Linked DNA regions of Homo sapiens: region 2 is linked to region 1. Evidence: fine-mapped expression QTL. A gene starts in region 1. The other region holds a variant in brackets. All regions are shown on one strand. Distances are between the middles of the regions. Region 1 holds the start of ITPRID2 (ITPR interacting domain containing 2). Region 2 overlaps ITPRID2 (ITPR interacting domain containing 2).

The links. PIP is the estimated chance that this variant, and not a neighbour inherited with it, causes the effect. A credible set is the group of variants that fine-mapping cannot tell apart.
Region 2: its variant is the best candidate, but not a certain one, in a credible set for the expression of ITPRID2 in whole blood (INTERVAL, PIP 0.89).

What each region holds. Positions count from the first base shown.
Region 1 is chr2:181,889,712-181,893,987 of GRCh38, reverse strand. ITPRID2 (ITPR interacting domain containing 2) reads right to left here and starts at 2,258. Exons shown (of 18, transcript NM_001130445.3): 1 at 1,711-2,258; 2 at 1,328-1,373. The coding sequence starts at 1,921. RefSeq lists silencers at 1,622-1,761, 2,052-2,381.
Region 2 is chr2:181,912,030-181,916,305 of GRCh38, reverse strand. ITPRID2 (ITPR interacting domain containing 2) reads right to left here. Exons shown (of 18, transcript NM_001130445.3): 10 at 2,373-2,461; 11 at 1-1,090. Among named protein-coding and RNA genes, the nearest start is that of ITPRID2, 22 kb to the right of the region's middle. The variant A/C (reference allele first, on the strand shown) is at 2,329.

The DNA.
Region 1 (4,276 bases):
AGTTACAAAACAACTTCTCAAACACATTTCTAAGTGGAAACCTGAAAGATACTAGTTTTATCAGATCTCACCCAAAAGGTCTTGAACATGTACATTCAAAATTTCAAGCTTTTACATTATAGACTATTTTAGTATTTAACAATTAAATGAACCAATAGCACATTAATACAATTTCTTGATCCATACTTTGAGTGAAGTATCTAATATCTAAGGCTTATCTGAAAACTGGGAGATTGATTTACAGCTAGATTGTAAATCTGGGGTCCAAGGACTTCAAGCAGTGTATTTGCCTCTGTGCATCTTTAAACAGAAGTTATTCCATATATGTCATCATATTTCAGAAGGGTCTATGACACTTCCAATAAAGGGTACGAGTTCTGTAATAAAGAGTGTTCAATAAGGTTCCAGTCGATTCATCAAAACAAGGCATTAATATCATGGTAGCCAATATCTTGTCTGTCTTTAGAGGAGGCAAACTGGCATATGAATCACTTTCCACAACAAAACAAAACAAACTACCCTAACTCTAATATTTGAACAAAATATTAAGAAAATCTAAATTGAGAAAGCAAAAATATGCTCGAAAGCAAACACCAACAAAAGTTTAAAGGCTACATTCCTGATTTTACAACTAGCAAAGTGGAATAAGAAACAAGTACATTTTGCTGTAGTCAGATTTACGTGCAACATGATTCATCTCCTCTGTATTTTATCAAACATTTTTGTACCAGTTGCCAAAGCATGTAATTAAACAGATTTATGCAGTCTGAATGCTTTTAAAAGTTCTATTCCCTGAGAATTCCAGTGCCATCTGACAATTCCATGTTCAAGAAGTAAACTATAAGTACAAAGTTAGCTAGTTTTAATAGCTCCCCAAACAGAAACAAAATTAAAGCCCATTTAGTGTAGTTAGGTAAATTAAACTCGTCTAAAACACATTTGAAAGGAAAATGATTCCGTGCCAGTTGTACAGATGCCAAAACTAAAGCAAAACAAAATATCCTGTTCGAGATGTGAGAATTCTTTCAAATAAAAACAGAACAAATATGGCATGATTATCTGTTCTGGATTTCTGATCTCTGATGCTAACACGATGCGTGAGTAGCTCAAGTCCTAACTGTAAAGTCAACACGGTCACCAAATAATCAGCGGTCACAGCACTTCCATTTCTAATCGCTTAGAGGAGGAAGCTATCCGCCGGCTCACTTTCCGGTTTGTAGCTTACAACGGTCGCGGGACCCACAGGGACGCGGCCCGAGTGGCTCTGCTCCGGCGTCCCGTCCGCACGGATCTCCCCCGGGACGCGGGCGGACCAGGGAGCACTCACCGGCAGTCCTTGAGCCATATCGCGATCTTCTCGTTGGGCACGTTTCCTGGGGGTAGAGAGAGGGGACAGCACGTTACCACCCAGGAGCACTACGACGGCGGAGTCACCCTGGACCCTCCCAAGTAGGAAAATCTACCACGGCAAATGCAGCCTAAGCGACACGTCTCAGTGTCCCTTGGCAGGGAAATCGGATGGCACCCAGTTGTCTGTGTTGACGCTGGGGGCGCCTCGTTCAGCGCGCGCGTTTGAAGGTCGGAAGTGTCCCCTCTCCCCTCGGCCTACCGTGCCCGAGGCTCTCCCAGAACTCGTGGCAGGCGCCCAGGGCGCACGAGACTCTCCCCAGCCCACCAGCCTCCCCCCGGAGCCCGGCCGGGAGCACCGACCTCTTCCCCCCGCTGCCGGCAGCTGCGCGCCGGGGAGGTCCTCCTCCTCGTCCTCCTCCTCGTCCTGCGTCGTCGCTTCTGTGGACAGATCCTCCGTCTCCGACGCTTGCCAGGAGCTGCGGCACTTGGCCCAGGCCTTCCTCCTGCGACTCGCCACTTGCCACTCCAGTTCCTCCTCCGCCTCCGCCGACGACGACAGGGGCCGGTCCATGGCCGCACTGGGGGCTCCGCTACCCCAGCCGGACCCTGCGCGAGACAAGGCGGCGGCAGGGACCCCCGCCCTTGCTGTCAGCGCCCGGCCGGGCAGGGGGCCCCGGGGAGCTGAAGCGGGCGCCGGAGGAGGAGGAGGAGGAGGAGGGGACAGGGAGGGAGGGAGGGAAGGAAGGGGAGGGAAGGGGCGGAGGGCCGGCGCTTCACATGAAGGCGGCCGGGCGCGCGCGGGAGCGCTAGTGGCCCGAGGGAGCGCGGCTGGGAGCCGAGCGCCCGCCCGGCCCCTGCTCCCCACCCCCTGCCTGACGCGCCCGGAGCAGGCCGGCCGCTGCGCGTCTGCGCGCCTTCCCTCGGCGGCGGCCCACGCCCCCTTCCGGCCGGGGCCGCGCGGGGCGCGGTAGGGCGGGGCGCGCCCGGCGCGACGCGGAGCAGGCCAGCCCCCGACTACTGCCCGCGGAATGGGCAAGATTAGTTTGTTAATAATCTTTCCTCCTCTCCTCCTCCTCCTCCCTCACCTAAAAATAGAACGTAAGTGGGGAGGCCAAGTCTCACAAAACATCCCCCGCGAGAAAACAAGTGTCTGCTTGGGCACCCTGAAACATACACTTGAAAGAGTCGCCTGAATATAGACTCTTTAGTGTCCAAGGAATTGGGGTAAGGACGGAAAGAGGTGCTTGATTGGTGTTGCCAAAATGTAAAAACTGCAAAAGACTAAGCTTCCTGGAGTGCTACTTTCATACTTAAAGTTATTTATCGTGTTTATGTTATGAATGAAAATGAATTGTGAAAGGATATTTAATCTGGAAATTTCACATTGAAGTTGGACTTTGGTGAGGGAGAATAGAGGAAACAATTGGGACAATGTGGAGATAGTTGCTTGGATTTTGGTGAGACAGCATGATACAAGAAACAAATGATGTCAGGGTTCAAAACTTTTTAAAGCCAGCTTTGGCATTCCGTTTTGTTATGTTTAAATTCTCATTAGCAAAAATACTCAAATTCTATCCAAAACCAGACACAATGTGACAGACCTATCAAGCAGCATTGTTCCCCTAAATGTTACATCTGAACTATACATATAAGTAAGGCTTCCAATATTTTATTGTACTTGGCTATGCTCTGAAGAACAAGTTAGAACACTTTTTAAAATCTTAACGTGATTGAAAAGAATATTTTGCGTAGACAAAATATTTTAAGGAAGGAATTATTTTTCATTTGAAATTAAAATCCAGAGCATAGTAAAATTCCTAATGGAAGCATTCGAATTACAAGGTAATTAAGTGCATTGTCATTGATAGCTACAGGAAACCATAACTTTTGGAGAATTTGGAATGAAGAATGCTCTGGAGATGAAATAGTGCCTAGTTTTTGTCCAGGCATTTACACATAAGTCATAGACTACTAAAATAGCACACTGATTTTCCTGCCTTCATTCTTTCCTATCTCCTTTCTAGCGCATTGCTCTAGATTTACAATTCCAAGACATCTTCTAATGGTTTACTAATATCCCCAAGATCAAATCCAAAATCCAGACTAGCTTTCCAGAACCATCATAATATTCTCCTGAGTCTCATCTATGTACTGCCAAATGTCAGGGGAGTTAGAACAGTGATATTAATATCTCTATGGCTTGAAATTTCACTACTAGAAAATCTTTTCTTTGAACCTATAAGACTTTCTCAGCCTTCAAGGGTCCTGTAGTAGGATGCAGCTAACAGTTTAATGGCTCTCCAAAATAGGTCAGAGTCTCGCTGCCTGTGTGGAAGATGAAAAAGAGAATGAATAAAGAAGGTACCTAAGAAGAAGCATTGAAAGGGCTGGTCAAGTGCCACAAAATATGCTGCCTTCAAAGTTTTATCCAGGGTTCTTACGTATCCACCCTGTTCCTCTGCTGCTCCCAGCTTCAATTCTATCATATCTAAGTGCTGTTGCCTACTCTGTCTTTGCTAATTAATTCATTCCTGTTCTTTCTGTCCACTACCTTCATGACTTTCAAAATCTAGCTAAGCCAGAACTTTTTGACTCCACCATTCCACCACTCCTGATCACACCCCTCCCACAGGGATCTGATATACAACAGCATGTCTATGTCATTTATTTGGGGACTGGATTGTAGAGTAAATAATATGACTGGCCCTGGAAGGTATGTTTGGCTTACTAGCCAGATTGTAAATTGTGAGAGATGATAGAACATTCTTCAGTATTCTTGCACCCCTTACACTTTTAAATGCTGATCCCACAAGGGATAATGGGTCTTCTTGAGGTAGTTTCTGTTTTCTGTGTTCTTCAAAGAGACACCTAAATTGATTATTTTAAAATTTGCTTCATGTTATTTCTATAATGCTTATATTTTATT
Region 2 (4,276 bases), 22 kb before region 1:
AAGGACACCCGAAAGGGGAAGCGAAGGCACTACAAGTAGCCCCTGATATGTTGGGAACACTGTGAGTGCTCAGAGTTCTTGTGTGCTCACACAGGGGCCTTTCTTGCCACTCAGAGTGGATGGAATGAAGGGAACAGGTAGACTGAGACATTGGTGGTGGAGCAAGCCGTGAACAGGTAGGAGTCCTTCCATGATGGCATTCCTCCACCCGCGGCGCCTCACTCTGGGGGGCTTCTTCTTTCTTCACAGATGATGGAGAGATGAAAATGGTCGATTTAACTAAAGACTGACCATCATGTTCCATCACCCGCTTTTCCAATTCCTGCTCCTCTTCAGGTGTGTACTTATAGGTGAAGGAAGGTGGGCTGCATCTGGTCTCTTTTCCTGGAGATAATCGAACATTGACAGAGGACACAACCCTTACTGGGCTCAATAAGGTGGTTGGTAAAGACTGAGACCTTCTTAGAGGATAGCCAGCTTTTGCAAATAAGTACCTTTGTTTTAACAAATCTTTTGATTTTAGCAGGCTACGCCCCATCCTTTGATTAGACAGACTGCAAACCTTCATTTGAGCTCTTTGCAAAGCTGTATTAACTCTGTCCATGGAAGAGGGAGGCCCAGTTGTATTTTCAGAGCTCATATCACTGCATTTAGCTTCAATAGAAGCCAATGATTTCAGAATATGGTGTGTGGTATACTGAGTAAATTCACTTTCACTGCTTTTACCCACATCACTTTCAGCACTTGCTTCCCTCAGTAGCTCTACTGTCTCTGCTGGAAACAAATCCTCTTCCACTTCAGTAATTTCAATGATATGATCCCCTGGACTACAGGTGGACTGTTTAGTTCCTGTATTCTCAATGGTGTTGCACTGAGGGAAATCCTGGCTACCTGATTTTCTTTTGTCTGCAACTGCTGCTGCCTTCTCTAGTCCCTTCTGAAGAGGGACAAGAGACTCCTCCTCTGATTCATTAAAATAAGGCTGGTCTTGTGCTGTTGGTGTGGCAAGGTCTTCACCAAGTGACGTAACTGTTGTCTCACTGTCACAACTATCAGCACTACTCCCCATAGCCTGCAAGGACTCCTGAACCTGTGAAAAGAAAATAGGTGGAAAGATGAAGAATATATGTAAGAAGAGTCACTAACAAAATACCAAACCAACATGGTGCTTCTATAATTTCACTGTCTCCACTGCAGTTGTGGCCCTGCTGTTGCTCAAAATTGTTTTATTGCTCCTGAGCAGCAACCACATCCCTCCTTCCTCTCACTTTCTCACAAAGATTATTTCAGAACTTCACTGTTTTCCTAAAATTCCCTTTCCAACAACCTCCCCCTTTCCTTTCAATACAACACACTGACTCATAGAGAAAATGGACAAACACTTCCTAACATTCTTCCCCAACATCTAAAAACTTCCTTGTATCTCTCCCCATCATTCCCTCCTTCTCTCCATTCTGAAAGGAAACTCAAAGCGAATCCCTCCAACCTGGGTTCCTGATCATATCCTCTCCAAGACCAGGGTATCTCTCCAGTTTCAGCCCGGATTTTTCTGAATCAGTTCTTCTCTTACGGTTATTTCCCTTAGCTGAACACTTTCCCCAAGTCATTTCATGTTATTATAAAAGGACAAAAAGACCCCTCACTCTTAAGCTATCATTCATATTTGAAAACCAGTCAACATTCCTATCTTTTCTTCCATACCTTCTGAAAGTTTCTCCTCCATCTCCCAGTGTTTCTGTTCACTTAATTACTCTTTCTCAGTGAACTTACATATGCCTCTTGTCTGTTTACCCCTTAAATGCTATGTTCCTAAAGGCTCTTTGGGAGTTTTCTCATCCCAATTTTCTTTAGAATTTGCTTAAAAAATGTTTCAAATGCTTTTTCTGTGCATTCTGTGTACTCTACATATAGACTATATGCTTCTTGGGGATAAAGATGTGCCTGTTCTCTGGGTTATCTCACACAACCTAGTGTAAAAATCAGTATAACACTCAGCAAGCTATAGGTCCACAATTAATGTCAGTTATTAAATAGGCAAAACAATTACTGTAAAATAATGAAATATAATGATGGTTAAAAAAATAAGAAAAACAACAGACAAAACAGGTTAATGATCACAATAATCTCTGTTTACTGGTGGTCCAAAAATTAAGGGGAAGATAGATATTTTTAAAAACATATTCAGAGAGAAGAATTAATGAAATCTAAAATTTATAGTCAAATGCTTAGATAACATCTACATGCCAGGAGTTTTGTTCTGTCACTTGAAAAATAAAGATTATACAGACTCAATATTAAAATATATAGTAATACAAAAACCACCTTAAA[A/C]TGAGGAAGTTAATCATAGTGCCTATTAGAACAGAAAATTTTACCTGAAGATGATTAAGGGATAGGCAGTCTGTAGAATCTTCAGCAAAACCACTGCTATCGGAATGCTGACTTGCAGTACGTAACAGATGATCTATGAATAAAAAAATGTGGCTATAAGAAACAGATGATCTATAAATAAAAAAAGTGGCTATAAGAAATTACTGAGAGCAATATTACTACAGAGATATGATTCCCAGCAGATATAAGATACACAATATTTGACTGCTTCTTAGAAAAATATGCATTACTTATGCAAAATTATGTCTTCAAAGTACAGGAGGTAACTCAAATTCAAACAAAAACTGTATCAGATCTTCTATTAGAATCTCTCGGTATTCGCTCATTAATTAAGCTCTAATTATAATCTATTTTGGTAAATCCAATCAATGTTTTATCCTTGGAGGAAAACTGAAGTAAAAGATGGCTCTAATAAAAACAGAAGTCCCAAAGTAAACCATTTCCATTATGTAAATATGTAAAGATATTTAGGAGGTAAATTTAGAAGTTCATATAGAGAGCATAGTGTGTAAAGATTTCTATTATCTTCCCAATTTAAAAAACACAGTTAGGGCTGGGCGCGGTGGCTCATGCCTGTAATCCCAGCACTTTGGGAGGCTGAGGCGGGCGGATCACGAGGTTAGGAGATCGAGACCATCCTGGCTAACACGGTAAAAGCCCGTCTGTACTAAAAATACAAAAAATTAGCCAGGCGTGGTAGCGGGTGCCTGTAGTCCCAGCTACTCGAGAGGCTGAGGCAGGAGAATGGAGTAAACCTGGGAGGTGGAGGTTGCAGTGAGCCAAGATTGTGCCACTGCACTCCAGCCTGGGCGACAGAGCAAGACTCCGTCTCAAAAAAAATAAATAAATAAATAAATACAATTAAGGCCAGTAAATTAAATAATCTGAAATGCAAGCATACTTAAATGTCTCTGGTGTTTTATGATGTTTTAAATGATGCAAATGTATAAGGTATGAAACAATTCTTTCATAAAAATTACATAAAACTCAACCAAATAGGTTCAACTACAACATAATATTGTTAATCTTATAAAATCTTTCTGCTTATTTTTCTGCCTCAAAATTCTAATTCCTGGTTAGTATGATCTATAATGTTTTACATAAGTAAAAAGGCCAACTAAGCATAGCAAGTATGTTCACATTCTATCCACACTACAACTACCACAATGGGAGAGACTGTACAGTTCTTACATTCATCAAGGCAGAAGCTTCAAGAGACAGCAAAGTTCTGCAGAACTTCAAAAGCAAAAGGCTAAATAAAGTGTGTTTACCAAAACCATATTCATTTAAGATATGAACCACATAGAAAAAGAGCCAGATAATATAATTAAATAAAATTTAAAATCTATTAAAGTCAACTTGGTTTGAAAAATACCCCACTATAGACTCAGTTTCCATGGAATACATTTTTCCCATTAAAAATTTAGAATAATTTTGTAATATCATTTTGATAGTAACAAGACTGCAAAATGAAATATAAGGAATTATTCCATATCCTTGATAAGCCTACGTAAATTGGAATACTTGTGAAACTGAACTGCAATAAGCTGTTACCACCAGTACTGATAAGGCATTATATTCTTGGTAAAATGATTAACATCTTATGCTATAGCAGTTATCACTATAATTACGTATTTTCATATCTTTAAACTAGATTGTGAGCCTTTTGAAGGCAGAAACTATTCTTCTTTGTATCCCAGTACCTAGAATAAGCTGAGAATAAATGTTTGCTGACCTCAATCAATGATACCCATTTCCTTAAAGCAACAAAAGAATAATGCAGTCATTTAAACGATTTAGAAGTGAAACTGTCTATCTGGCTAGGCAAGGGCAGGTGCCTGAGTGCAGGGAAGACAGAGTGAGCAGCTCTGACTGGTTCTCTCTGCTA